4 linked regions of the Homo sapiens genome follow. The protein of the gene in region 3 interacts with the protein of the main gene of each other region in a pairwise test. Each region holds a gene or a part of one and is shown on either strand. Other genes may lie near its edges.

Evidence for each region.
Region 1: the proteins of RAB3IL1 (region 3) and PSMA3 interact in binary tests that used the Homo sapiens proteins (3 or more experiments, as listed by UniProt).
Region 2: the proteins of RAB3IL1 (region 3) and SATB2 interact in binary tests that used the Homo sapiens proteins (3 or more experiments, as listed by UniProt).
Region 4: the proteins of RAB3IL1 (region 3) and CTDSP1 interact in binary tests that used the Homo sapiens proteins (3 or more experiments, as listed by UniProt).

What each region holds. Positions count from the first base shown.
Region 1 is NC_000014.9:58,239,259-58,247,842, forward strand, and holds the start of PSMA3 (proteasome subunit alpha type-3), read left to right. Parts: upstream 1-5,584; 5' UTR 5,585-5,662; coding exon 5,663-5,683; intron 5,684-8,491; coding exon 8,492-8,574; intron 8,575-8,584. UniProt on the Homo sapiens protein: Component of the 20S core proteasome complex involved in the proteolytic degradation of most intracellular proteins. This complex plays numerous essential roles within the cell by associating with different regulatory particles.
Region 2 is NC_000002.12:199,447,499-199,455,477, reverse strand, and holds part of SATB2 (DNA-binding protein SATB2), read left to right. Parts: intron 1-7,979. UniProt on the Homo sapiens protein: Binds to DNA, at nuclear matrix- or scaffold-associated regions. Thought to recognize the sugar-phosphate structure of double-stranded DNA.
Region 3 is NC_000011.10:61,900,068-61,908,046, forward strand, and holds part of RAB3IL1 (guanine nucleotide exchange factor for Rab-3A), read right to left. Parts: intron 7,594-7,979; coding exon 7,498-7,593; intron 7,404-7,497; coding exon 7,326-7,403; intron 7,036-7,325; coding exon of another isoform or gene 6,941-7,035; intron 6,618-6,940; coding exon 6,399-6,617; intron 4,816-6,398; coding exon 4,687-4,815; intron 4,592-4,686; coding exon 4,479-4,591; intron 2,475-4,478; coding exon 2,375-2,474; intron 1-2,374. UniProt on the Homo sapiens protein: Guanine nucleotide exchange factor (GEF) which may activate RAB3A, a GTPase that regulates synaptic vesicle exocytosis. Promotes the exchange of GDP to GTP, converting inactive GDP-bound Rab proteins into their active GTP-bound form.
Region 4 is NC_000002.12:218,402,771-218,407,323, reverse strand, and holds the end of CTDSP1 (carboxy-terminal domain RNA polymerase II polypeptide A small phosphatase 1), read right to left. Parts: intron 4,314-4,553; coding exon of another isoform or gene 4,290-4,313; coding exon 4,197-4,289; intron 4,093-4,196; coding exon 3,907-4,092; coding exon of another isoform or gene 3,733-3,906; exon of another isoform or gene 3,170-3,732; intron 3,028-3,169; coding exon 2,899-3,027; 3' UTR 1,383-2,898; downstream 1-1,382. UniProt on the Homo sapiens protein: Preferentially catalyzes the dephosphorylation of 'Ser-5' within the tandem 7 residue repeats in the C-terminal domain (CTD) of the largest RNA polymerase II subunit POLR2A.

The sequences.
Region 1 (8,584 bases), on a different chromosome or scaffold from region 3:
ATTTTCATATCTCAGTTGTTTTGTACGTCTTTAAAGAGCCTTTACTAGAATCTTAATTTCCTAGTATCCATCCCCAAGAAGAATGGAAGAAAACTTGATGTATGCACTGGTGGTATAAATCTCACTACAAAAAGAACTATTTTTCACTATATATTTCTTCAGGGATAGACTCCATATTGAGAATAGGAAAAAGGACAGAGAGAGAGAGAGAGGAAGAGAAACAGAGAAGGATAAATTGGTTCTTTTTCTTCGGAGTCCTCAGGTGCCTCTGAATGTTTTTACATCCGGTCTCTTAAATTTTAGAAGAGCAGCCAAAATGTGGGGCTCATAGGTTTGTTAAGATAACAATTAAAACTGCCCTCTACCACTAACTATCCAAGTATGCACAGTAACACAAAAAACTAGTCTTTAACAGTGGGCATTTGGTTTCCTCTGTGTTTTAAGGAGAACACGGGGAGGACGTGTGATTTCAATTGCGCAAACACAGTTTGTGACCTGTTTCGTTTACAAAAGGTTAACTTTTTACTGGAGAATCTGGTTAATATTGAAAGTGTTTAAATTAATTCTGCTTGAGAACTCTGTAGTTTAAGTGCTTTAGTGAAAGCGTTTAAGTTTCAGGAAAAAAGTTACAACCCGCGCCCAACGTGGGGCTCGAACCCACGACCCTGGGATTAAGAGTCCCATGCTCTACCGACTGAGCTAGCCGGGCGCCTGTTACGTTAGCCTGCTTTTTTACTTCTTGAGGACTGTTTAACTACATGGTTTTATATTCTCCGCGTAGTTTCTTTTCTAAAAAAATTTATAACGTACTATTAGATCGGCACTTCAGAATTATTTTTCAGAGCGTTCTAAATATTTAATTGTACTTAGATTTAAGAATGTTTGTATATGTATCCAAAGATCATTGAAAACTTATGCGAATCTTTATCATTACAGAGTCATTGAATCTTTTTAACAAAGTGTTTAAAAATATTTACCAACCAATATGTTTTGTTTACATAAACACATATCAAGGCCATCCAACTTCCATCAAATGGCATTCCGGATTCCTACATGTTTGGGCTCCGCATTTAGAAACAAAGTCCAATCTCTGAGGGGTTAGTTTCCCTGAACAACCGCGGGGCTTAGCTATTTTCTTTAGCATGGTCTGATGAAGGAGAGTTAAATTCAGAAAAGGGGGGCTTCGAGTCAATTAATATAAGGTCTCTTTAGCGTAATTGTCTGACAATGAGAGATAGGACGTTTGGAGGGTGCTATTATTCTCCTCAAGTGACAGGAGCTGGGAGGAAAGAATTATAGTCTCTGAATCTAATGGTAAAGAATGTGAACTCTAACAGGCAAAGGGTCAGAAACCCGATTTTAATCAAATTACCATAGGAGATACTGGAATAATGTCATATGGAAATACATATACTCTGAAATGATGGTGAACCTTTCTAGATAAGAAATTCTGTCCGGGCGCGGGATGCCTGTAATCCCAACACTTTGGGAGGCCAAGGCAGGTGGATCACGAGGTCAGGAGTTCGAGACCAGCCTGGCCAAAATAGTGACCCCCCCCCACCCCCACCCCCCCGTCCCCAACTACCGTCTCTACTAAAAATACAAAAACTTAGCCGATCATGGTGGCCGGCACCTGTAATCCCAGCTACTCGGGAGGCTGAGGCAGAAGAGTCGCTTGAACCCGGGAGGCGGAGGTTGCAGTGAGCCAATATCACGCCATTGTACTACAGCCTGGGCGACAGTGCGAGACTCCATATCAAAAAAAAAAAAAAAAAAAGAAAAAGAAATTCTTCTAATTTCTGTGATAATGGAGAGGGGTGTGGTGTTTATACTACTACTTAGCAGTGCAAGTTAAAGACCAATTTGTAAACCTGAAAATAACAAAGAATTCTTAGGATAGTATCCCCAAAGCACAGTATTTGGAAGCTAGAAACATTGGGCATCACATTTCCTGAGGTATTCAATTTAAAAATAACATATGTCATAAAATAGTATACATTTAGAGTTGTCTTGCTCTGTCGCCCAGGCTGGAGTGCAGTGGCATGAGGCTCACTACAACCTCCGCCTCCCGGGTTCAAGCAATTCTCCTGCCTCAGCCTCCCAAGTAGCTGGGACTACAGGCACCCGCCATCATGTCTGGCTAATTTTTGTAGAGACGGGATTCACCATGTTGGCCAGGCTGGTCTTGAACTCCTGACCTCAGATGATCCACCCGCCTAGGACTCCCAAAGGACTGGGATTACAGACATGGGCCACCACGCCTGGCCTTTTTTTCTTTTTTCTTTTGAGAGGGAGTCTCGCTGGGCTGGAGTGCAGTGGCGTGATCTCAGCTCACGGCAACCTCTGCCTCCCGGGTTCAAGCAATTCTCCTGCCTCAGCCTCAGCCTCAGCCTCCGGAGTAGCTGGGACTACAGGCATGCAACACCACGCCCAGCTAATTTTTGTATTTTTAGTAGAGACAGGGTTTCACCATGTTGGTCAGGCTGGTCTCAAACTCCTGACATCAGGTGATCCGCCTGCCTTGGCCTCCCAAAGTGCTGGGATTATAGGCGTGAGCCACCGCGCCCGGCCGAAAGAACCCCCAAATTCTTAATTATTAATAAATATTGAGTGCACTAGGCACTCAAATAGTGTTTATCACACACAAGTAATGATGTTAATTAAAAGATTAACTGATACCTAAACAAGTTTTGAGTACTTACGGTTTACCTCCAAGGCCAAACCTTCTGCAACTATTAACCTTTAGCTTTCTTCAACACTTTCTTGGACTATCTTGGTCTAAATCCGAACTCCCCAGGAAAGAACTGCAACTAGAGGCCAGGTGCAGTGGCTCACGCCTGTAATCCCAGCACTTTGGAAGGCCAAGGAGGGTGAATCACCTGAGGTCAGGAGTGTGAGATCAGCCTGGCCAACATGGTGAAACTCGGTCTCTACTAAAAATACAAAAACTAGCCTGGCATGGTGGTGCACACCTGTAATCCCAGCTACGCGGGCAGTTGAGGCAGAAGAATCGCTTGAACCCCGGGGGTCAGAGGTTGCAGTGAGCAGAGATCATGCCACTGCACTCCAGCCTGGGTGACAGAGCAAGATTCAGTCTCAAAAAAAAAAAAAAAAAACCACTTACAACTAGAATGTTTTAACGAGGGTTAGGTAAATTAAGTGGCTAGTCTTCCAAGTCATTCAAGTCCTTTTATCTATCGGTTTGTTCAAGAATAAAAACATCAATTGTAATGCTTCATTAGCAGGAAAAAGCAAAAGTAACTGAAATTCCTTTTTCCCCCTTACTTTCTATACCCAATTCTGCAAGCCCTATGTCTTAGCCCATATTCTGCTGCTATAACAGAATACCACAGACTAGGTAATTCATAAACAAGAAAAGTTTATTTGGCTCATGGTTTTAGAAGTCCAAGAGCATGGCACTGACATCTGGCAAGGGCATTGTGCTGTGTTATCCCATGACAGAGGATCAGAAGAGCAAGCGAATATGTGAGACAGAGAAAGCTGAAATCCAGTGAAACTCACCCCTTTATTAGGAACCCACTTCCAAGATAACTAACCCATTCTGAAAATGTCATTCATCCATAGTGCCCTCATGACCTAATCACCTCTTAAAGGCCCCACATCGCAATACCATTACATTGGCAATTAAATTTCAACACGTGTTTTGAAGGGGACATTCAAACCATAGCTCCCTACACATCTGAAATCCATCTACATATTTCCACCTCCACTGCCACCACTTTAGTCCAAATCACTCTCCATTACTGCTAGCTCACAAAAGTGCAATAACTTTCCAACTAGTATCCCTGCCTCTCTTCTTTCCCTTAGCTATCATTCTTCACACAGAAACAAGAGGTCATTTAATGATTTAAATCAAATCATATAATTCTCTTGCTTTAAAAACTCCTGATAACCTCACAGTAGAAAACCAATAATAAATGTGAAAAGAATGATGGAATTAGAAAATCACCATTTGGCAACCATTGTAATAATCAATTCAAATAAGAATCATCAGATATTAGAATTAATGAGTGAAATGTTGAGGCGTAAACAGGATGTGTACATATTCTCAAAGTATTTCCTCACAAGATACTAATTACAAAGGGAAAAATGAAACATTATCAGGGATAAATCTTCAGCAAGTGATCAAAGTTAACATTACCAGCAATAAAACAACTAACATCATGTCCCTTCTAATGTAATGCTCTGACATGAATGAATACAAGGTCATTTCTGTAGTATTCCTGCCATAAATGCATCACTTGAATCAAATAACAAAAAAATCAAACCTAAATTAAGGAATATTCTACAAAATAAATGGTTTGTATTCTTCAAAAGTGTTCATGCCATGAAAACTGAAGAAATACTAAGCAACTATTTTCCAGACTAAAGCAGATTGGAAACATGACAACTGAATGCAAGGTGTGATCTTGGATTTTCTTTTGCTATGAAGGACATTATTGGGCCATTTACCAAAAAAAAAAAAAAAATGCATAAAGTTGATAGATCATAGTATTGGTAATTTTCTGATTTTCACAATAATACTGTGTCTCTGTGAAATAATGTTCCTGTGTTGGGGGAAAATACACACTGACGTATTAATATTTAGGAGTAAAAAAAATGCTGATGCCCTATTTACAATCGGATTAAAATTCAAACCACTTCAAGATTTGGTCTCCTGTGCACTTGTTCTCTTCCTGTCATTCTTCCCCACTTAATCATTATGAGAGGTCACTCTGACGTGACAGTTCCCAGCGCAAGCCAAGTTTTTTACTGTTCCCTAAACCACTGTCTTTTGTTACCCTATTTTAGTTTAAATATCACTCACTCAGAAAGTCATTCCCTGAGCACACTGCCTAAAGTTAGTACCTCCATTGTCTATTAAAGCACTCTTTCTTCTTACTATTTTGCTTATTTATTGTTACCTATTTATTCCCACTGAATGGAAATTACATTAGAAATGGGGGTATGCTCTGTTCACGGCTTTTTCTTGAACACGTGGAATATACTAGCGCTCAAAAAATATCTTTAATCAGACTTATCTTTAACTCTTACCAAAAAGCGTTATACTCATAGAAAGAGCACTAATACTTCCGTAAAATTCTAAGCTGAATTCAAAGACGATACCCTTTAAGTGAAACTTCACGAGAGCCTGAGCACAAGGAGGTGAAGTGGATGCCATCAAGATTCTGGGTCAGGGTCGGGACGCGGAGGAAGACAGGTTACTTCGCGCCTACTGCTTTTTCTACTTTTTGTGAGAGTATACCAGCATCTCTCCCTTTGGCTTAAAGAAAGAATAAAGTGAGGAGAGAATAATAATATAAAAGATAAATAATAATTCCAAGGAAAGGAATAGAGCAGCTTCTCAGATACCACGACGCCAAGCGGCTCAAAGTACGCGAACCGAAGGAGGAGCCTTTGCTTTCCCCAACCCCGCCTCCATTGCTTCTGCACATGCGCGCCGCCAGCCTCTCGCGGCCCGCTTTTTTCCCACAATACTCCTCGTCCTGGGGGCCGGAGCCGCGGAACGAGCCACAGAGAAAAAGGTTATTGGTTGGCAGTTCAGCCAATGAGCGGGCCTGTTACTAGTTTGCGGCATCCTGTGGTATAGGGGAAGCGCTCCGGGCCTGGAATCCCTACGCGTCCCTTTGGGTTTAGCACGATGAGCTCAATCGGCACTGGGGTGAGTTCGCTGTCTGTCGGTGTAATAGTTTAACCTAAGGATTGGGGTTGAAGGGAACTCGGACAGACCACATGGGGTTCGCGGACCCGGGGTGCTCTGAGACCGCCTTCGGCTGGGTGGGCCATTTGCAGCTGTTTGGAGACCGGTCGTCTTTATCCCCTATATGCTAGGCCTGCGTCTCAGGTGACCGTGACTCCTGAAGCTTTTCAGCGCAGGTGTAGCCGGCTTGGCGTCGCCGCAGTGAGGTTTGGAGCCGCTTTGGATTGCTGAGTCACTTTCTTCAGCCACTTAGGGAAACCGAAAGTGGAAACTCGTGGGGCTTGAAATAGTGTGTTCTCTTGAGAACCACCGAGGCAGTGAGATTTGGGATTCCGGGGTCTGGAGATCGTGCTTTTTGTGGACTGCGTTTGCAGTTCCTAGGGTGCTGCTGATTCACAGGCCTTCTCTGTCTTTAAGTGTGCAGATCATTGACCGCTCAGTTTAAGAGTCACTGGAAATCCTGTCGGAACAGAACTAATAAAAATGGTCTGAAAAACAATCTGATGAATCCTTCAGTTTTTCCTTTCTCGTTTTTCCTATACAAATTACCTAACAGCGCTTGTAGGCATTTATTCCGTAAACGTTTAAATGGTTACTTAGGAACTTAACAGCTTCAGACTTTTCATAGACTGTTGAGGATTTTGCAGTGGGACTTGTTAACTTGTTTGGCTTTCCTTTGTTAAACGTATTGCATATGTGCAGTCAGTTTACTCCTTTTATGTACTTCTCTATATAGAAAATACAGTTTCTAAAAGATTTATTGGTTATTTGCACTAGAGTTATTGAATAATGAGTTTCTCAGTTCCTCAATTTCTACTTCTTAACAAGATTCTCATGCTCAGCCTTAAGTTCAAGTACCGGTGTTCTAAATTTGATAATAGGCAACTTATGTCTGGAATGGTTTAATCCATTCAGTTATGAATGCTAAAGTTCTGCCATACTTTTCTTGGATAAGTAAATGCTCAATATTAAATCTTGTAGCAAACTGACTTTGCAATTATATTAATATTACCTTGAATTAATAGTATTTCATTCTACAAACCTTTTAAAGAATACTTGATAATGTAACCATGTGGGATATTTTAGTAACAATGGTAGGGTTAATGATCTGGGTTTAACAGATCAGGAAACAGACTCAGAAAGTACCACTGCTGAAGGCTTTTCTTCTGTCTTCATTTCTCCCAAGAACTCCAGATACGAATATTTGTTTGTCTGCTTGACATGTCTGTTCACTTGATCGTTTAATAGTCATTTCGTACTGCATGTGAAAGTAGAGCTCTGGGTTTTCTCCTCACCTTGCCATTTTGCATCTACTACAGTCTTCAGCTCAGTGAATGGTCATATGAAAAAATCTGTTATTCATCTTTAATTCCTTTTTTTACTTTACTCCCAGAACCAACGCTTTAGCAAGTTTATTTTTTTATTTTTATTTTGTTTGAGACGGAGTCTTGCTCTGTTGCCAGGCTGGAGTGCAGTGGCACGATCTTGGCTCACTGCAACCTGTGCCTCCCAGGTTCAAGCAATTCTCCTGTCTCAGCCTCCCGAAGAGCTGGGACTACAGGTGCGCACCACCACGCCCAGCTAATTTTTGTATTTTTCGTAGAGATGAGGTTTCACCATGTTGGCCAGGATGGTCTCCATCTCTTGACCTTGTGATCAGCCCGCCTCACCCTCCCAAAGTGCTGGGATTACAGGCATGAGCCATCACGCCTGGCCTAGCAAGTTTATTTTTATTATTTTTATATTTTACTCTACTCTCAAAAAATATTCCCTTCTACCTCTTCTCTCGTCTAAGCTACTACCGCTATCTTTGGAACACCTTATCTTTGCTTCTGTTGTTCTCTCTACAGCTTATTTTCCGCATAAAGCCAGAATGATGTTTTTAAAAATATAGATGATACCACTCCCCCTGCTTAAATTTCTCATTGCATTTAGAATAAAATACAGAGTCCTTTTTCCATCCTGGAAGACACAACATAATCTGGCCCTCAGCTACCTCACTAACACAGTTTACTCTTCTTTCTGCTGCTTACAGTGCTTGGGACACAGTGACCTTATTTCTGTTTCTTGACTGTGCTAGCCTTATTTCTACCCTAAGATCTTTGTGCCAAATGTCAAGAAGACTTTTCCTTCATATCTTAAATGGCTAGCTCCTTGTCATTTAGGTTTGACTCAGCCTAAATATAACTGCCCAGAAGGCCTTCCCTGATGATGTAGTCTGTAGTAGTTCATTGCTTTACTCTTTTATTTTCATCTTAGTGCCTTTTCTGATTTACTGCTGTACCTCTAGCACCTAGATTCATGTCTGATGTGAAACTGAAGGACTTAATGAATGAGTATACCTTTGTATTCCGTATAGTAACATAATAGATACTCATTAACTGCTTGGTGAATGCCGAATGATTTGTTTGAAGTCTTTTAGTTTGTTAATGGCAGAGTTATCGTTACAAATTTAAATGTTCGAACTCCAGTGCTGGTTCTACTGCCCCATATTAATCTTTTTCAAAAATGAGTTTTGTAGTCTGGGTGAAAAGTGTTCTGACTTCACCTGGGACCTGTATCCATTACTCTTCAATAGCTGAAATCGAAGGTATATAGCTTTATCTTAGCTACTGTTGCTGCTCTGACAAGTTTCCCTTTCCTCTCTTGAAAGCAAGGTCTTTGTTGGGATATAACAGGTTCCTGATGTTTCAGCCATTTAGAGGGGAAGAAACTGTATGGTCATTACTGCCAAAGATACAAGCTTACTGTTGCCCTTTTCTCCTTAAGTATGACCTGTCAGCCTCTACATTCTCTCCTGACGGAAGAGTTTTTCAAGTTGAATATGCTATGAAGGCTGTGGAAAATAGTAGGTAAGAAACA
Region 2 (7,979 bases), on a different chromosome or scaffold from region 3:
ATGCTCAGGCGAGTACAGGAACAAGGAGAGTTGATGTTACTTTGTAGTGAGGACAGTGCTTCAAGACAGATGAATGACAACTGGGAATATTTCCTGCCACGTGAAATGTGGGAAATAAAGAATCACCATGAATCCATCAGGCCCTTAGAAGCTTAAATGCTGCTGTTGTCTATAAAGTTTAGTCATATGCATTCGTAACTTTATTATGAATTATAGGAGAACAGATAAAAATAGCAAAGTAGCCTTATCAACTAGATGTAGTTTCCCCTCCAAAGAATTTATTAATAATTTTATTTAAAGAAAATCTTTTGTAGTTTTTACTACTTAAGCAACTACTTTCTTTTAAAGTGGTCAGGAAAAGCAATCATACAAAATAAAGATATGGGAGAAATTTAAACATTGAAATATTTTGGAGTTTGTATGCCATTTGCTTAGTTGTCTTTTACATGTAAAATCCACAATTCCACATGGCATGCAGGTTTTCTGTGTGTTTGGCATAAATCACTAGTTTAATTTTTTTTGCCTCTAACGTTTTTTCTCTAATAATTTCAACAGTAGCCCATTTAATATTCAATATATTAACTTGTCTTAAATGATATAAAACCTTGGCAAACCTTAATGATAAGCTCCCACCCCCTTGTTGTAAGTGTCTATTGTGTGTATTTCAAAATAGTTACTTACATCTAAAAATGTTCATTCCTCCTTAAAGAGTTGAACACATACGTTTTATAAAATCGTATTTTTTTCTTTTTACTTATTTTGCTATTTCTATTTCTTCATGGTAAATACTTAGGATGGTTTGTCTCAGTCTTTCATATTAATCGTCTCACTTGAGAAGTATTCATCCTTTCAATGTTGTGAGTTAAAAAGTTTGGTGATGGATTCTGGCTTGTTTATCTCCCCTTTTTGGGACTTGAAAATATACTTTATTGAAGCAAAAGAAAACAGTTCTGTGACCCACTTTTTAAAAGAGAGGTTTATTAATTTGTTGTCCTGATACTGGAGCAAATAATGTCAGACTTTTGGCATAATCAGTTAGTATATGCATATAAGAAATAAAAATTCATAGAGTATGATGGTACCAATTATGAGATATGCTAAGTGCTGAAAATGTTTGAAAAAGTTCTGAAACTCCTTGGAGACAGTGTGTTCCAAAGTGGCCTTTGTGGACAGAAAAGGCTTGGACTTAAAATTTTGGTATCTTTCTGAAGATCTAATAAAATTCACTAAATTGAAAGGAGCTGTAAACATTTTAGAATGTAATTGTTAACAACGTGCTTCCCTAAAACAAGTTTTTTCCCCTCCTCTATATCATGTTGAACTATGAAAGAAAGTGCCTTGTTCTGTTGACCAGGGATAACTTTAGTGTTAAATAGTGGTTGGTTTTCAAATTTTCTGAGACTATAGTTCACATTTGAGCCCTTATGTGTTTAATATAAACTAAAATTATTATCTTGGTGAAGAATAATAGATTTGTTTCAACCAGCTGCCTTAGACACTTTCTCTTGATTAACTTAATTTAGTAATAGCAGAGGTCTTATTAGCTGCTTCCCAAATTGAAAATAAAGATGACATTATTTTGTCTCAATACATATCGTTTATAATACACGATAGTAAACTGGTTAAAATTGTTTAGTGGAATTTAAATTTTTTTAAAAAAGACAGCATAATAGTGTGTAAAGAGATTAATTTAGACAACTTTAGAATATAACAACTTAGAAGATAAGATTTTGATAGTACAAAGGTTTCTAATTGAATGTTAACAAAATTATGAGTTTAAGTTTATATAATTTCCAAATGTATGTTAAGATGTTAATAGTTTCTTTGTAACTGTTAACCATGTATACAGTTTGGAGCAAAGCCAGGCCTTTTGAAAAATGCACATTCTAAATTTTAAAAAATGTTTAAAATACATTTCTAGTTAGTTTTTTTATAATTAAAGGATTTTTTTGAACATAGAGTAAATATAAAGTAGATTATATTTCTACCATTCTATGTTCTTTTGTTTAAATTTTCTTTATAAAGCAATATAATAAGCATAGATAACTACACAAGTATTTATAGCTCTGTATCATTTATTACCGTTTTCAGATATATTGCAGTCTTTTCAATGGTGTAATGATGGATACAATAAAATTTGTCTTAAAAGTGGAGCCAAAAATTTGGGAGTACATATTTGTTAATCTTTAGTGTTCCTCTTTCTTAAAAGCTGTTCTTTTAAAAATAAGGGAGATCAAGTTAATTGGTTGTCAAATCAAATAGCAATTTATCTTACTGTTTTTGATAAGCAGTGAGGTAAATATAGTTTAAATATACTTCTGAATGCATTGGTTGCAGTAATAAATTCTGCTGTTACTCTACTTATTTAGGTAGAGGGAATTTACTGTGTTTTTTGATGAGAACTAAGTATTCATAAAAGAAGGGGCATTACTTTAGTGTCTCAATTTAAATAGAAGAGAGGGTAGATACACTGTCACTGTCTTTAAGGTTGTGTTTTAACAGGGGACTTAAAAGTGGATTGTTTACTATGTGGTTAGCTTTAGAAGACTGTTAGAAACTAGATGTTTTGCTTTGTCTTTCCAACACTTTCTGGGATGTTTTTACTCTTATCTGAGCAGTGTGTTTTAAAGCATGTATGTAATAAAATGTAAGTGCTCAGATGTGTATGTCAGTCAGCTTTTACAGACGGTCCTTAGGAAAAAAAAAAGGCTAATATCTCTTTAAAAAACATATGAAGGCTAGGAGAGAGTTTAGAGCTAGCAAGAGCACCATGGTGTTGACAGCTTTATATCCCTGCTGGGTAACATTCACTTACTAGAATTGGCGTCCCCTCTCAGCTAGTAATTCACTCCATAAGGATTTTGAAAAAGGATGATTAATGGTGGGGAAATTTATATTTGTGAAATTGTTGATTAAAACTTACAGATCTATTTGAAGATTTAGGAAAAGAAGGGATTATTAAGGATGATGAAAATAAGAATCAGATGATCCTTTTTACCACTATTAGCATAAGTACCTAAAATGTTCTGCTGTATGGAATGCTTCAGCCATGCAACTTACAGCATAAAATGAAAGTGATGCCAATCAAGTTTCCAGAGGAAGCAAGGCATTCTGCTTTTCTCCTGGACTGCTGAAAGGTGCTGGCCAGTTGTGCTTTAATAGCAATAAATTATTGTGCTTCATTCATTGTTAACACAAGCATTTTCATTTTTTAATGTTTGGCTTAAAGAAGAACTTTCAGACAGCTTTATTTAAACTGAATGAACAGCGCTTGAATATACCAGATGGTGTATTTGCTGATAGGAGACATTAAACATCAGAAATCTTTTTGATATTTTTCATTTTCCTATGAATTTTTATGATTTTTTGGTGTTAAATGTTCTACATTTTAGGGAAAAATATTTAAACATTGAAAATATCTTTTAGAGAGATTTGCTTTTTTTATTAAAAAAACTTGCTTATTTCTGAAAAATAATTTATGTTTTATAAATAACAATTTAATTTTGTTGGCATACTGTCTGTTAAAGTTATCTTATAACTAGTCTACCTGAAGTAGACCTATTCGTGCTACCAGGCAGCCCTTTCAAGAACATAACTGTCTTGTTGCAAGGGGGAAAAAAATCATTATGCAGTACACACTGATGTATTCAAATAGGGAAGCAAATGTGATCAAGATTGTTAGTCAGGGCCTCATTTAAAGCTGAACATTGTCTACAACAACAGTTAGTTTAATTGTCTACATGTGGAACACTTCCTTTTAGATGAAAAGAAATGCAGTTCGGGTCAGGTGTAGTCACCATATCAGCAACAGTAGAGAGACATTTAACTTTTTGAAAGGAATGCAGATATGAAAGTATAGATAGGTATATATTGAGATTATAAAATACTTAGAAATATATTGTTAACATGGGCAAAATGGAGAAAACTCCATTCCCAAGGATGAATATCATAATATTTGTAGGAAGTACACATTACTTCAAAAGAGAAAAGATTGTATTTCTCCCTCCTCACTTTTTTTTTTTTTTTTTAAGGTTTTAAGATCTTTTAAATAGAATGAACTTAGGCTTTGGGGTCATCCAACAATCTAGCCTGTCCTCTGTAGTTTTGCTGAGGTAGAAAAATAACTCTTCTCTAAAGTGTTTTTAGTTCTTGGCCTGTTATTAAAATAAAGATATACTTGGTTAAAAAAATATATGCAGTGGAACATACACATTAAACAGAACATAGGGTATCCGCCCCTCAAAGTCCTGAGCATAATTTGATGTTTCAAGTAATTTTGGAAGCCTTATGTTCCATCAGAAGAAACCCACTGACCATTGTATACTCAAGATCATCTGTAGTGCAGTGTGTGTGTGTGTGTGTGTGTGTGTGTGTGTGTGTGTGTGTTGGAACTACATAGATGTCCCTTAAGGCATCTGTTTTTTAACCCCTGCAGAAAATAAGCAATATCATCCTTTCCCAGAGGGTTGTAACCAGCAAAGTCTGTACATATGAGATATCCTGTTTGAATTCTTCTTTTCTTTCTTGAATTTTGTTTTAACCAATCTATCTCTGTAGAGAAGGGAAAACAGACTAATCATCATTTATTAGATAGCTAAGAATATGAATTTGAGTCATTTTAAGTATACGGAAATCAGTTTTATTCCAGGAAAGACTACAGTAATTATTTGGTATATCTGACAAAGTAGTAAGCAGTGAAGTTTGATGGTTATAATTTAAAACCCCTATTTTTCTTTCTTTTTAAAAAGTATTTATTATAGAATCAGCATATGTGTATATATTTAAAAAGACATGTTAAATTTACAGGGCTAGATGAATTCCAAATAGTATTATTTTCTTGGGTTATACTTATCTTTTAAAGCTTTTTAGGTTTCTGTTGGAATAAAATTTCTCACCATTAAAATGTTTCTTATGACTAAGAACCCACATTAGGTGTGTAAAATATGTACATTGTTTTATTTCAGAAAGCCAAACTTTATCCTATATAGCATGTAAATTAATAAAGAATTCTTTATATTGTTTAATCAGTAGGCTTTTAAAAAACCTATATAACTAATATATGGTAACATAGTAATTTTTACTATCTTCCTTACATGAATACTGAGATACAATGGCATTTTGGAACATATTTAAAGATGGAGCATTTGACAAAAGTTGTATGTGTAACAGTTTGTCAGTGAAAAGTGACAAGTGGGAAATGACAAATGAAATGTTGGCATCATCACTCTTTATTTTGATAAAAATGTCTCAATTTGCAGTGATATAATACTGTTTCATATTATTTCATGAGTTGTGTGAGAATGCATAAGGGGAATTTAGATTTTGTGAACGGAAAATTAGCAGCCCAAAGTCTCTTTTCAGAAGCTTTGGCAGCAAGTTCCCCGTCTCCCCCACTCCCCAAGAATAAGAACAGCAGTGAAATGTTGGATCTAACCCATACATTTTAACTCATTATTTTTTGGAAAAAACAGAGAAATAACCTAAAATGGTTTCGAGTAGGAGACCTTTATGCTTAACTCAAAAAAATGAAGAAAAGAGTTTGCCTTTTAGTTTCTATTCTTTTCTTTGTAGCAATTTTTAAATGAATGATTTGCCTCTACTGACTTTGATTGTATGGTCTTTTTTCACTTCCAATCAACACTGCTCTCCAGCATTAATTTAGGGTGCCAGTAAGGAGAGCTGTGAATTCCTGTTATTTTAAAATGCAATAGAGGTTTTGAAAATGTCTGTGGTGAAAATGGATTTTTATATACAAAAGATTCATCATCCTACTACTTAAATGTAATGTGATAAATATTTCAAAGTCAAAGTAGATGCCCTGAGTGGAACTGAGGTATGACTAAAACAAAAACCAGTTGAGGACTTACAGAGTTTGAAAAAAGCACAGTTGTAGTCATTATAGTATGCTATTTTCCGTTGCTCTTTATTGTTAGCAATTAACCAAACATTATTTTTCTTCTTTTATGTAGAAACAAGCCCTGTAAGCATAACATGCTACAGTGTTTTTGTAAAAATGTTCCATGGTGGAGTTTTCAAAATTATGGAACTCTAGCTATATATATTTGTTTCAATTAACAGAATTATTTTGCTTTTTAGTAGCAAGTGATTTAAGAATTGTGGTAAAATCAGTATAATTAAGTGGCACTGAAAGGCTACATCAGAAATTGCATTCTACAACTTCTGTATCTTTGCTGCTCAATTAAAAAGTTTTACTTATTTCAGATTTTTAAAAAACTAGATAAAAAGACATAATATGGAACAAGTGTGCTTTAGATATATAATTATGACAATAGAGTTTATGGCATGCATTTTTTTTCCCCTTTTTAATTGATGTCCTTTAACTTAAACAAGTGGATGTTATGGTTATTAGTTTGACAAATGCCTAAAATGCAGATAAAAGCATGAATAGAAATTTTAAGAATTTGAAACTTGCAATAAAGTTATCAGCAAACTATGTCAGTTTTATAGTAAGCATATTCTTTATTAATGATTATGACACATAGGACAGGAAAACCTTCTGGGGAAATATATTTCAATTTTAGTTGCTCCTGGTACTGTTACTCACTAATAGTGTGTGGGCAGATTCAGTTCTGCTCTTACCTAGTAGCCGTATCATTGGAATGGAGTTCTATCGTAGTACAGTTGGTTATTAAACTGTAAAATAACAAAAAAGATCAAAAAATTAAGGGGAGGCACTGCAAGCTACTATTTATCAAAAGGGATCCATTTCAAACCAGGGTAACTGGTGCCCACTGATGGTTGCACAGTTACTGAAATGTGCACAGCAGCTCAGTGTCTTTCTTTTGTTTATTTGACTGAAGACTTACACAGATATTTATGTATATAATATATAAAATAAGAGACTCTAGTTAGAGCAAATGTTTTCCAAAGTGCTAAGATCTGACAGAGGTGATTTGCAGGGGTTTGTCGTAGAAACAGCGTGAATTTCATCACGTTAACCACATATATCTTTTTCTTTCTTTAAAAAATACTTTTTACTTGTTTTTGCATTTGGCTGGAAAGCAAGTGTATCAGTTCTTTCATAACTGATTGTGATTGATTTTTTTTTTAACACAAGAAAATATTTTCTTTGCAAAGAGAGCAAATTTGATTGGATGCCATGCCCAAGACTCCTGGGAAAGGACCAAAGGACCAAAGGCATAAAGTAAAAATAACTGTATTTTTAGATTTCCCAATTATGTCCTATATTAAAATTGAGTACTTTTATTGCATTTGTTTCAATTATTATTACATATAAGGAAAGGCAAAATTGATATATTTAATAGCTTACTGACGATGCATTCATATCAAAACACTTGAAATAGCAATAGCATTTTTGAAATATTATTTTTTGGGGGTTAACAGAACAAGAACTTTCTTTTGTCATAATCCAAAGATGCTAACAGAGCAGCATGATAAATGTCTCTTTAAGTGTCGTAGTAAAAGAAAATGACTTGTCTTCTGAGGCAGTGGAGAGTTTATGTTGTTTTGGACCCATTTCCCAAGCAGTGATCGAAAACAGATTACAATAACAATTATACAGTCAGAAGATGCAATATCCATTTCTGCTTTAATTGAGTGAAAGAATAATAAAAACATCATTAAGAAAAATGAGGTGGACCTGTCACACAATGTACAAATTTTTAGTCTTGGAGAAGATGCAGAAAAACTGAAGTGCTTTTCGCATACTTTGTTGTGTTTATTAGCTAAAATCTGTTTTAGGGAGAGACCATTTGGCTCTCATTCTTCCCTGGGAAGTTCAAAGAGGAGCCCATGGAAAGTGGTTGCCCAGGAGACATTACAAATGACCATTGACTTTGTCTTCATACACAGTTTGACCAGGAAAATCCCATTTTCTTAAATTCTACCTGAGGTGGAACTACTCTCTCCCCCTCCTTTTTTTTTGTCTCTGTAAATGGAAGTCAGAAGTAATGAATGTTCCTCTTGTTACAAAGCCCAGCCAAGTAAGGGTTAGATGG
Region 3 (7,979 bases):
GCCCCCCTCTGTACTCACTCCTCCTGTAGACCTCAGCCGATGACTGACTTGTGTGGAGATAGAAAGGACAGTCCCCTTGCCTCAGGGTGGAATCAACTCTGCTAAGAGCCCGGTGGATGGGGCTGAAGCTGGGCTGTAGCTAAGGCCACATCCTGGCTGGACTCCCCCGTCCCTTCCCTCATTCTCCTGGGAGCTGCACACAATCTCCAGGTGAGGCTCTGCCTCTTCGGAACCCAGCCTAAGACAGGGTGGAAGGTAGCCGGCGGCTGTGCCCGCCCGCAACAGCCCCTACTGAATGTCCAACACTCCTGGGGAGGGACATCAAGTGAGAGGGGCACCCGCAGGCTGGGGAGTGGAGAAGCTTCGGGGAGGGGCGGGACGGTGGTGGCCTGGCAAAGATAGGGAGGTGCGAGAGAGCGGGGCGAGGTCGGGGGACCAGCCCGTCGTGGCAGGGACACCGCTGCACAGGGAGGGTTGAGGAGAGGCTGCGGCAGGAGGGTGGGGCAGGGCAGAGCTCAGGACAGGAGCAGGGACAGTGGATGCCCACAGAGGCTCATGAGCAGGGAGTAGCAGGGAGGGGGCTTTCCCTCTCCAGGGAGTGTGCTAGGGAGAAAACACTTCTCCCTGTGGACCCCACATGTCTTGGTCTTTCAGGGCAGGGACCACATCCTAAAACTTCAGACCCTCCTCACCTCATCTCCCACCCCCAGCTTCATCCAGTGCAGCAGGACACCCAGGCCAGGGACTTAAAGTGCTAGAGGTGACATTGTTGAGCACGGGAACATCTTTTGTGGGGCCTGCTGTTGAGCCATGGTTGGGCCTGGAAAGCGGTGATGGAGATAAGTGGCCACTGAACAAGGCTCAGTGGGCACAAATCCACAGGGTAGGGGCTGCAGTGGACTCAGAGCCAGGATCCCAGGTCTCGGTGTGTGGCCCTGAACACACCCCTTTCCTCTGCCAAGGCTCAGCCTCCCTTTTGGTAAATGGGTGCTCAGCACACCGCTGGGAGGACTCACGCTCGGATGCCTTGTGGAGTTCATCAAGGACAGTATAGTCTGCTGCCAGCAAAGGGACCATTTGTCCCCTTTAGACCTGCTCCCCTGCGAGGAGCCTCTAGCAGGCCTGAGATGGTTCCTCAAGCTGTGTCACTGGAAACGTGTTTCCAAACATGTTCTCTTGTTCCCCTCAATCCTCTTAAGAGTCAACAGAGGGACAGAGGAAGAGGAATCCCTGTCCTCAATCCCCAGCTTGGTGAGAACCCCTGTCCTGGTCTGGGTCACTCGGCAGGGGAGGGTGGGAGCTGGGATTCCTAGAGGCCCCTTGGCACTCACGGCCGACTTAAGGCTGGTGCACCAGACGCACCGCTGAACCTTTTCCAAAGCTTCGGCCAGCACCTGAGTCTGGGCGTCAGGAGCCCCGCACTCTAACTGGAACTCTAGCATCACTCCTGGATTAGGTGACATTGAATGACAGAGGGGGGCGATGTCATCCCATGACATTTCATACATAAGGCTGCATCTCAGCCGACTGGAGAGTGGCCCTCCTGATGGCTCTGAAGTCAGCTGCCCTGTGCAACAAGGCCCTGTGGCAGGGGACTGCGGGTGTCCTCTAGAAGCTGAGGGTGTCCCCTTGCCAGCAGCCAGCAAGAAAATAGGGGCCTCAGTCCTTCAAACACAAGGAACTGAATGCTGCCAACAATGTGAGTTTTGAGGAGGACCCTGACTTCCAGAAAGGAACACAGTCTGCTGACAGCTTACTGCGACCTTGCAAGTCCCTGAGCAGAGAATCCAGTAAGTAAGTAGTGCTTAGACTCCAACATGGGGAACTGCGCTATTTTAAGCTACCAGGTTGATAGTAATTTGTTACACCGTAATAGCAAACCACTGCCCTTGGCTTGGCTGTGTGGCCCGAGTCAGTCTCTGCGCCTCTCTGAGCCTGTACCCTGCTCTGTAAATCAAGATGTAAGGCTGGGCGTGGTGGCTCACACCTATAATCCCAGCACTTTGGGAGGCCGAGGCAGGCAGATCACTTAAGGCCAGGAGTTCGAGTTCAGCCTGGCCAACGTGGTGAAACCCCATCTCTACTAAAAATACAAAATTAGCTGGGCGTGGTGGCACATGCCTGTAATCCCAGCTACTTGGGAAGCTGAGGCAGGAGAATTGCTAATGTCTGCCTGGGAGGCAGACATTGCAGTGAACTGAGATTGTGCCACTGCACTCCAGCCTGGGTGACAAAGACTCTGTCTCAAAAAATAAATAAATAAAATAAGTAAATCAAGGTGTAGTGCTATTCATACTCCCAGGCCCAGGGCCCAGTGTCCCAGCACCCAGGTGGCCCCAAAGGAGTCAAGTAACGCTTGCAAAGGCTGACTCACCCTGGCCCGGGAAGATGGCGAGATGTAGTAATGGCTTTTGGAGTCCCCGAGCCGGATTCGGTGGCGGCAGGTGCGGGTCAGCCCGCTCAGGGCACATGTGCTAGGGGAAAGCAAAATGGGTCACGGGGGCTGGCTGGGGCTTGCCCCTCTCCCTCACCCCTGCATACAGGGAAGATGCAGCAGCTGAGAGGATGCATGGGGAGGGGCAGGCCTCCCTTCCCCCACCCGGCTTCCAAAGGAACCCAGAGCCAGGCAGAGAAGGGAGCTGGCCCCAGCCATCCCTGGGACAGACCTCGAACTAAGCTGAGCTGTACCCCTAGAACCCTTGTTTTGCCCCTACTGGGCAAGAGAGCTTGGTTAATCTCATGCCAGGTGTACAAAGTCCCACCCTCTGCAGGCTCTGCATATGCCTCTCCCTCTACTTCTGGGGACTCAGACCAGGCACTCCTCCCCCAACTAGGCCAGAGTTGAGGTCTGGCTGCCTCCCGCTTCCCAACATCCAGCAGCTCCCCTGCTTCATCCATGCAGGCCTTCTGACCCCACTAACCCCCATGGTTCTCAGCCGCATGCCAACCAACCCCGTCTAAGAGCCTTCTCCCATGCCCTCTTCTCTCCTCCCCCCAGTCCTGCATGACGTCGCTCAGCATCTTCAGCCACCCACATGAAGGGTCTCCACAGGCCCTGAGCAACCCCCATCTGGGCCCCACTCCCCAAACCTGCTCTTCACTGGCCATCATCTGCTCGGCTCTCTCCTCCTCACCCTCTGCTTGGTCACCAAGTCCCCAGGCCAGGGCACAGCAGCAGTACTTTTGGCCTGCATCCCCTTGGCTCCTTCTGGCCAGCTCTCTGCCTCATCGCTCTCTTTCTTCTCCACATCAGAGCCAGGGCTCCTCCAAAAACCCACATCTAACCCATCATCTTTCTCTCTTGCTTTCCTAATTCCCAAGAAATGGGGAGAATCCCAAATAAATGAAGGTTTAAAAAGCTCCTTGGCTGCGGACTTATCAGAGCATTTGTTGCCTCCTGGTTCACTGGGACTCTCTGATGGACCAGAGAGCCTCTTTTCAGGTGGCAGCTATTGATGACTTTTTTTTTTTTTTGAGACAGGGTCTCACTCTGTCACCCAGACTGGAGTGCAGTGGTGCAATCTCAGCTCACCACAACCTCCGTCTCCCAGGCTCAAGCAATTCTCCTGACTCAGCCTCCCGAGCAGCTGAGATTACAGGCGTGTGCCACCACACCCGGCTAACTTTTATATCTTTAGTAGAGATGGGGTTTTCTCCATGTTGGCCAGGTTGGTCTCAAACTCCTGACCTCAAGTGATCCACCCGCCTCAACCTCCCAGAGTGCTGGGATTACAGGTGTGAGCCACTGCACCCGGCCTATTGATGACTTTTGCCGCACTGGCTGGTGGGTTAAAGCCCAAACCTGTGAAGGCTCTTTATACTCTGGCCCCAACAGCCTCTGCAGCCTCCACCCCAATTCCCTGTCCCCCCACTGCTTAGCCAGATGCCCCAGTGGTGCTTCCGTTAATACTCCAGCTTCTCACACCTTTGCACATTCCGTTCCCTCTGCCTGAAATGCCCTTCCCTGCTTGGCAAACTTCTATTCATCCTTCAAAACCTGGCTCAAATGCTCCCTCTCCGTGATGAGCCTCCCACCAGGGCACCAGCCATCCCCAGCCAGGCTCTTGGCTGCCAAGGTGAAATCCTCCCCAATTTCTGCCCCTTGCTCCACCCTGGCTATTTTGTTCTGCTGCTCCCCTGCTCAATGCCAGGTGAGTAGCTGGAGGACAAATGCCAGGGCTACTGCGTCGTTATTTATTGGCAGGGGCACAGCCAGCAACTGATAATCATGGTTCAAGAAAAGAAGGGGAGGGCACAGAGCAGACCAGTCAGGAAGAGGCAGACCCTAGCTCCCGGCCTCTCTGGAAAGCCTGGGGGTCCACAGGAAACCTGCCAAACTGCCTCCTTGCCCTGTGGGGGCAGCAACTGTCCCTGTCCTGTCGGCGCTGCTGCATCCTGACCACCCCTCGGCACAGTAAACACACGGCTTGGCGGGGCTTTCCCACATGGGCAGGAAGGAGCTAAGACCCTCAGCTTACTTGGTGCTGCTACAGTCAACCTCGGCCACCTTCACTGTGGGCAGCGTCTGCGAAGCCACCGGCTCAATGGTGAGCGTGTTGTCCTCCACGGCGGCCCGTACCAGCACCGAGAGCTGTGGCAGACCAGGGAGGCAGGCAGGGTGGTAAGGGGCTGGGCCCTGGCGGAGGGGTGTGTCCCCCAGCTGGCCCCGCCCCTGCCATGCCTCACCTCCTGCATTGTGAAGTCCAGGCAGGGGCCCACGTCCTCTCGGTACACCCTTTCCAGGAAGGGGCAGGTCTTGTCCAGGGTGGGGGATTCCCTCCAGGCCTGGAACTCTGCAAACAGGATTGTGTCCACCTGTGGGGGAGGGCAAGCGAGGGTGGGGGCGGTCAGGGTACTGGGGCCAGCATAGAAGATGCAGGCTGAGCTGAAGGGGAGCGAGGGAGGACGTGGGGCAGGCCCAGCAAGCCAGCAGGTCGATCCCCAGCAGCCGTGCAGGGAAGCCAAGTCCAGCAGCAGCAGAGCTCCCTTCTGCCCTTTGCACCAAAGAATTTAGAACTAAAAGTTTTGTTTCCAGGCCGGTGTTAAATTTCTTGGCGCTACTGGATTTTAGAGTGGGGTGCAGGGCTTTGTCCTGAAGACCCTCAGTGCCTCCTTGAGGAGGAAAAGTCAAAGAGCAACTAGCAGGAGGCCACAGGTACCAGCAGGTACACAAGCACACACAAGCACGTGCACACAGGAGGGGACACACACAGGCTGCCCTGGGCCCACACCTCAGAGGTGACTGCTGGCCTGCTCCAGGCCACATGCAGAATGAGGGAGGCTGGGAGGGGGCAAAGTGGGAGGCCCCTCTTTGGAGCCATTTACCTGTCGGGAAAAGGAGGGAGAGGGAGTGGAGGCAGGGGCTGGGGGCTCCCCAGGTGGGAGCGGCCAGGCCGGCTCGTAGGTGAGGTGAACCGCCTTGCTGGGGACCACGCAGAGGAGCAGGGAGAGCAGCGGGGCCAGCCCGGGCTGGGCCGGATGGACAGACAGACAGACAGACAGACAGGTAGACAGGTGCACAGAGACAGAACAGGAGGAAGGGGAGAAGTTAATGTACATTCAGAAGCTCAGAGCTCAGGAGGTGGATGAGGGCCTGCTCGTCTTCCCTGGAGGCCCTGGAGACAGAGGTGGAAGCCAGGATGGAGTCGAGTGGGCTGGCGCCAGGGACCCAGGAAGCTGAAGGCACCACAGCCCTCTGAGGCACTACCTGGGTGCAGCCTTGAACTCAGCTCTTGATGTCCCTGTCTCTGGTTCCTCCAGCAGCCCCGGGAGGCCCCATTTATCAGGTGAGAAAGCTGAGGTGCTGACAGGTGGCCTCATTTGCCTACAGACCCATGACCATGAGTGTCAGCCCAGCCTGGGCCCAGCAACTGGTGTGGCCAGCTGAGGTGGGACGGAGACACCTCTCCAAAGGCCACGCTTGTCTCAGCCCCACAGTCAGAGGGTGCCAGAAACCCCTTGAGCACAGGGCTGTCACCAGGTGGTCCTGGGGCTCGAGGCTGTGGCCACACGGGGTCCAGGCAGCCTCTCCCCTGAGGCCCAGTGGCTGCTGCTTGGCCTCTTAAGGCCAAGGAAGTGTGTGTCTCAGTGGAGGCCCCAGATCCTCAGGGCCAAAGCCAGCCTCAGGTGCAGAGACCACTACCTACTGCTTGGAGTCAGTGGGGCAGGGAGGGGGCCTCAGGTCCCCAGATGGTATACCCTGGAGGCTGCAGGCCAAGTGCCTCAGATCACAGGAGGTTGGAGAGAAAGGACCTGCCCAGCCCTCACATCCCAGAGAGGCGCAGGACAGGCTCCAGGTCACACAGCATGGGGCAGGCTGGTCCTCACTGGGCTCGGACCCTGCCTACCGCAGGCACTGCCACCCTTCCCCGTGCCCAGAGCCCGCTTCCCACCCTCACCTCCTTGCCCTCTCTGTCTGGGGTGAGGGTGTGTCCCGCAGCGGGACACACGGCGGGGCAGAGGGTGCTGCTGGTGCTCTTGTGGCGAGAGTGGCCCTTTCGGGGCCCGGCCTTGGTGGGGCTCAGCAGCTGGGGGTGAAGCTCGCGGTTGGGAGAGGCTGGTGTGGACGTGATGACCAGCGTCTTCAAGGCTGTCACCTCTGCCTGCAGCATGTCGATCTGCATGGGATGGGATGGCTGTCAACCCTCACCCAGACTGGATGCCATCCTGGCTGCCACCGCCTATCAGCCTAACTCAGGACAATGCACCCCTGCAGTGACAGGCACTTAGTCCCACCCGACGCCCTCAGAACAGCCTTCGAGGCAGAGACCCAGACACTCGTTTTACACATAGGGAAACTGAGGCTCACAGAGGCGACATGGCCTGCCCAAGGTCACTCTGTGAGCAGGATTCTGTTAGGAACAAGTGTCTGGGAGCTGGCTGGGCCTCCCATGAGAGTTCTGGGACCGCCCCCAGGAGCCAGGAAAGGCCCAGGCCTCACATTTTGCAGATGGGCAACCAGGCTTGGAGAGAGGAAGCGACTTGCCCAGGCTCAGACAGCCATACTGAGTGAGGTTTCTGCTTTGTAAAGTGGGGCTGGGAGGAGAGGGAAGAAGGTACAATAATCACAGGGTCCTCCCAGCCCCAGCACTATCCCAGAAAAGGCTCTGCCATGCAGCAGAATCACTGATGGAGCCCCGGGACACTGGGCCCTGTGATCTCAGACCCCCACCCTTCCCTTCCCTCCCTGGGCCTAGGTTCACCCATTCCTGCTGGCCCCACCGGGCCAGGTGAGCGTCCACTCGGGCAGCAAAGCTCAGTGCTCGCTGAGCCGGGAGGCAGGGGGGGTGCCTGGGCTGGCCTGGGCAGGCGGGGATGGGCCTCACCTTGCCCCGAGCCTCCTTCAGCTGCTTTTCTGATGCCGCCTGCTTCATGTTGGCTTCTCGAACCATCTTGTGAGCTTCCTAGGAAGAAGGCAGTCCCTGCGTGAGTGGTGAGGAGCCAACGGACGCCCAGATGACCCATTCCCCAAGTTGTTCCCGCGCCCAGCCGGTGTACCTCAAACAGGCTGGCCGTCAGCTCTTCCAGCTCCTGTTCTAGCTGCTCCCGCACCTTGGACAGCCGCTCACATTCCTCGTCCTTTAGCTTCAGCTCCTGGAGGAAAAGAGGCAGGCACTTGAGCACCTCAGCATCCCCAGGCCTGGCACGGGAGGGACCAGGCCCACCGGACCAGGTTCCATCCCCTCGTCATTTTATGTGGGGCTCAGAGTTTATTTCCTCTGGTGCCTGACAGTTTGTGATGCTTTTTCCGTTTAGCCACAGCATGAAGCTGAAGCCCTGCCTGCCAGTTCATCAGAGCTCAGGGCACGTTTGCAGTCAAGACGGGTGACCATCGGTGCGCCCAGTACAGGCCTGGCCAGCAGCTGGCCTCGGTGAGGGCACATCCCTCTCCCTTGGGCACATCTCTGGGCACCTGATGAGAGCCCACAGCTCTCCCAACCTGACTTCTCCCCACCGAAGACCCCCCAGCCTACTGCAGG
Region 4 (4,553 bases), on a different chromosome or scaffold from region 3:
GGTCCTGGCACGGTGCCTGGCACACAGTACGCACCCGATACATGTGGTTGACTTGAACTTCATGTGGGTACAGGGTGTGTAGGTGGTGGTGGTGGGGAAGCCTCACTGTGGTCTCAAAGTCTGGAGCTCCTTTGCGTGTTTATCTGGCCTCTGCGATGCACATCTGGGAGGATCAGTGTTTGCATGGAGAGCAGGAAATAAGAGCAGGACCCGAGGATGAGGGCAGAGACCGGAGAGGACTGTGAATTTATATAGCCAAGGGCTCTTGTGGTCCAGCCCAGGCCAAAACTGAGACTAGGGTAACTGCAGGTTTTTCCAGGGTGCTTCTTGAATCTTTTTTACCAGAGAAAAGTAGTGGAAGGAGGACAAAGGGCGGCTTCACACAGCGCTGACTCCCCCTCACACAGACTTGGGGACCGATCAGCGTCTGGGGCACCAAGAGGCCGCCTGGGGGCTGGATTCAGGAGGTAAGGTGTTGAGCAGACACGATGGGGAGGTGGAGCTGGGGCGCAGGCACCAACACCTGAGAGGCATTTCCCCCTTCTTCCCTGGGTGTGTGCGGTGGGGGCTCCAGAAACGCCCGACCCCCGGGAAAGGGGTGAGTGAGGTGGGCCCCATCTTTCCAGCCCCCGGGGAGTTCCTGCGTCCGCGAGGACAGGGAGGCCTCTAGCGGCTGGCGTGGGAAGCAAGCAAAGGCTGGCTGGGGACGGCGGGAGGGCATTTCCTGCCGGCGCCTGGGGCCGCGCGGTTTCGCAAAGGAAGTGCCTCCCGGACGCGGGGCGGGGCGGGAAGTGGGGCGGGGGCGCGGCCAATGGCTGCTCAGAGGCCGCAGAGGGGCGGGGGGGGCCGAGCCCCGGCGCCGGCCCCACCCAGGCCGCCCGGCAGAGCCAGGCGCCGGAGCCCGCCGCACCCAGGCCAACAAGTTCTGCCGCTGGAGCCTCCACCCAGAGCCTCGCCCCGCTCCCCGCCTCTGCCTTCGGAGCCGCACAAGCCCCGCCCCTCTGCTCCAGGGCAGAGGCCACGCCCCCTCCCCCGCCGCATTCCAGGACTGCCCCTACCCAGGCCTTCGAATTTTGCTTTCCAGCTACTAGTATCCTGTCGTCTGTGTCCAGGCACTTAATTAGTCCTGCCAATAGGGCACATCTCCATTTTGCAGACCACATACCCGAGGCGGGAAGACGTAGACGAGCACAGCCTGGAGGCTCAAATTTGTGCTCTGACGCTGCCCTTCCCACCTGAAGTGTCGAGGGCCGGGCAGCCCCTCCCTCCACCAACAGCCCTCTAGGTGTGCTGAAGCGGGGGGGGGGGGGCCCACGGCAGCCGCAGGTGCAAGGCACACACCCCACTTGCTGAAGTCCCCCGCAATAACCACAGAAGCAGGATAGGGGTCTGGCTTTCTCTTTAGTTCTCATCACACTAGGGCTCTCAGTCACAGAGAAGGCACTTAAATGGGAAGGCCACCTGATGCAGGCCAACCATATTCACCCCCCGCCCACCCGCTCTGGGGGAGGGGAGCACAACGACATCACCACTTGACATCCCCCTTGGCACTGGTATGTGGGTCCCCTTAACCGTTAGACCCTGGGGAGAGCCCAAGGCCTTGACCTCCGGAATCGCCATGTTAGGAGGAGGGGCTTCAGAAACAGTTGGAAGGCAGGATATCCTGGGAGCTGCCCCCAGCCAGCAGGGGATCAGGCAGGGGGCTGTAGGAGATGGGTTGGCACAGGGGAAGGGGACAGCTTGGTCGGGCTTCCTGGAGATCCCCAAACCCCACAGAAGGTCCCACCTCCTACAGATCCCCCAAAGGCACCGGTGAAGGATGGGCAAGGAGGCACTGATGAGCTGGCGTAGAGACCCCCCACACACACTTAGCTGGTGGGCCTAGCATATGCTGGGCACAGAAGGTGCTCAAGAAATGTTTTTTTGAATGAATGAACGGAGCAAAGGGGTGTGAGGGACAGAGGACAGGGCCTGGGCCCCTTGGCCCAGCTTGTTCCATTCAGAAAATAGCAGTTTAAAAAATGTAAAAATCCTTTCCCTCCCTCCCCCCAACTTCTGGGCCCAGGAAAGGGGCAAGGGAGGGGTGTCTCTACCCTGACCCTTCCCTCTCTCCTTCCCCTAAAAATCTATATACACATGTACATATTTATATGGCACCACAAGGGGGGTCCTGCCTATGCCCCCACGCTCAGAGCTGGGGGAGCCAAGCCCCGGGGCTGGTTAAGGCAGAAGTCTGAGGTCATTGCTTGGATGATGCAGGGAGCAGCCCTCAGCTGTCGGCCCTGGAGAAGCTGCACTGTGGGGCCTGAAGGACAGACTCCTGCTGCCTTCCCCAGTGGTAACAGACCTCCCCTCCCTCCAAGGCAGAGGCAAAGGTTGGTAGGGGCCCTCTCAGTCCCAAGGGAGGAGGTGGGGCAGGGGGAGGGGCTGGTTCTCCCCTCCCAGCCTAGAGCTGTGCCCCTGGGAAAGCTGGGCGGGGAAGAGGGGGCTCTATGCAAGGCACTTGATGTCCACCGTTCCCAGACTGGGGGTCCAAGGCAGGAACCCTGCCCCCAGGAAGCAGAACCGGAAGGGGCCAAGGGGCCCAATTTGGCAGCAGAGAAACATGGCAGCATGGACAGAGACAGAAAAAGGGAGCAGCAGGCAGGGCCCCCCAGGTCCCCTGAGAATAGGGGAGGAGGTTTGAAGGCACTGACACGGGGCCTGGAGCTCACGGTCCTCAGTGCAGCCTGCTGCCCCTACACCGCCTGGTGGGGCTGGTGGGGGAGACGCCCGCTTCCCCATGGCACTGAGTGTGGCGGCGGCCCATGGGTTTTCCTAACAAAGGCCTGGGCAGTCTTCCTGGGAGGAGGTGTGGGTATCATTGGTCAGGGGCAGGTCCTGGCCCCATCACCCTCACTAGCTCCCTGGCCGTGGCTGCCTGAGCACTGAGTACACGTCGTCCACACGGCTGAGTTGCTCGAAGAAGGGGAGGAGGTCGTGGAGCTCTGTGTCACTCATGTTGTCAAACCACGAGGCCACCGGTACCTGGGGAAGTGGGTGTAGGAAGATGAGGGGGGCAGGTGGTCCTGGGTGCAGAATTTCCAGGCCAGCCCTATGTAGCCACTACTCAGATCATGCAGTTTCTGAAAACCCCTCACCCACAGTGTTCAAACTTTTTTGACAGCAATCCCCAGGAAAACACATTTATAACGTAACAATGCAAAAGCTTCACAATTCCTAACCTTATCTGTGCGAAGCACTCGGATACTTTTTTTTTTTTTTGAGGCAGGGTCTTGCTCTGTTGCCCAGGCTAGAGTGCAGTGGCACAATCTTGGCTCACCACAGCCTCTGCCTCCAGGGCTCAAGTGATACTCCTACCTCAGCCTTCTGCATAGCCGGGACTCCAGGCATGCGCCACCACGCCTGGCTAGTTTTTGTATTTTTTGTAGACATAAGGTTTCACTATGTTGCCGAGGCTGGTCTTGAACTACTGGGCTCAGCTACCTGCCCACCTCAGCTTCCCAAAGTGCTGGGATTACAGGCATGAGCCACTGCACCCGACCGGATATTTTCTATTCTATTTCATTTTGTTAAAATTCCCAATCAGAACCCACTAAATTAATTCTGTGGGCCATCAGTAGGTCACAACTGGCAATTCGAAAAATTGAAACTTTCCAAACTCCGTTGCCCTGTGGGGGCCCCTGTGCATGGCAGATGCTCTGCTTTGTGCGAGGGGAAAAGACCATATGGCTACAGGGCAGGTGGATGAGGGGAGTGGGCGGCAGGCACAGGCAATGAATGCAGGAAGGACTGGGAGGGCACCCACCCCCCAACTGGGGATCCAAGAGGCCAAGGTGGCCTGAATGGACTGACCCCTTCCTGGGTCTCAGCTCCTGTCCCAGTCCCAGTCCAGCCCGCACTCACAGCATTGTCTGGATGGAAGACATAGGAGGCAGGTGAATTGTCCAGGATGAGCACCCGCCGCAGGTCTCGACCCAACCGGCTCAGGTCCTTCACGTAGTTCCCCCGGTGGAAGACGCAGGACTCTCGAAACAGCCGGGCCCGGAAGGCCCCCCATTTGTCCAGCAGGTCAGCTACTGGGTCTGCGTACTGGGAGCAGGAGGTGGGTCATCCTGGGGCCCGCAGGTTCATTGGGCTGCATGCGGGAGGTAGGTAGGAGGGCAGGGTTGCCCCGGGACCCCTGTGGGGCTCACCTTGGCGAGGCTAGCAGTGAACAGCACACATTCAAAGAGCTCGCCCATTCGCTGCAGGAACTCATCCACGTGAGGACGCTTCAACACGTAGACCTGGGGGGCGGGCCAGTGAGGGGGCTGCGGGCCAGTGGGGCAGTGTGGGGGTGGCCGAGGGCTGGCAGGGCATGGGCCAGGGAGGCAGAGGCGCACAGGAAGGAGACTGGGCCCGCAGGCTCCGCTTGGCCAGCTACCCTGACCACTGCTGGGGAAACTGTACCCACCCCCCGCCAGAAAACGATCAAAACTTCCACTCCACTGGCCAGTCCTACCTCACGAGGTCCCTAATTCCCAATCCCTTCCCCTGCCTCAACCTCAGCC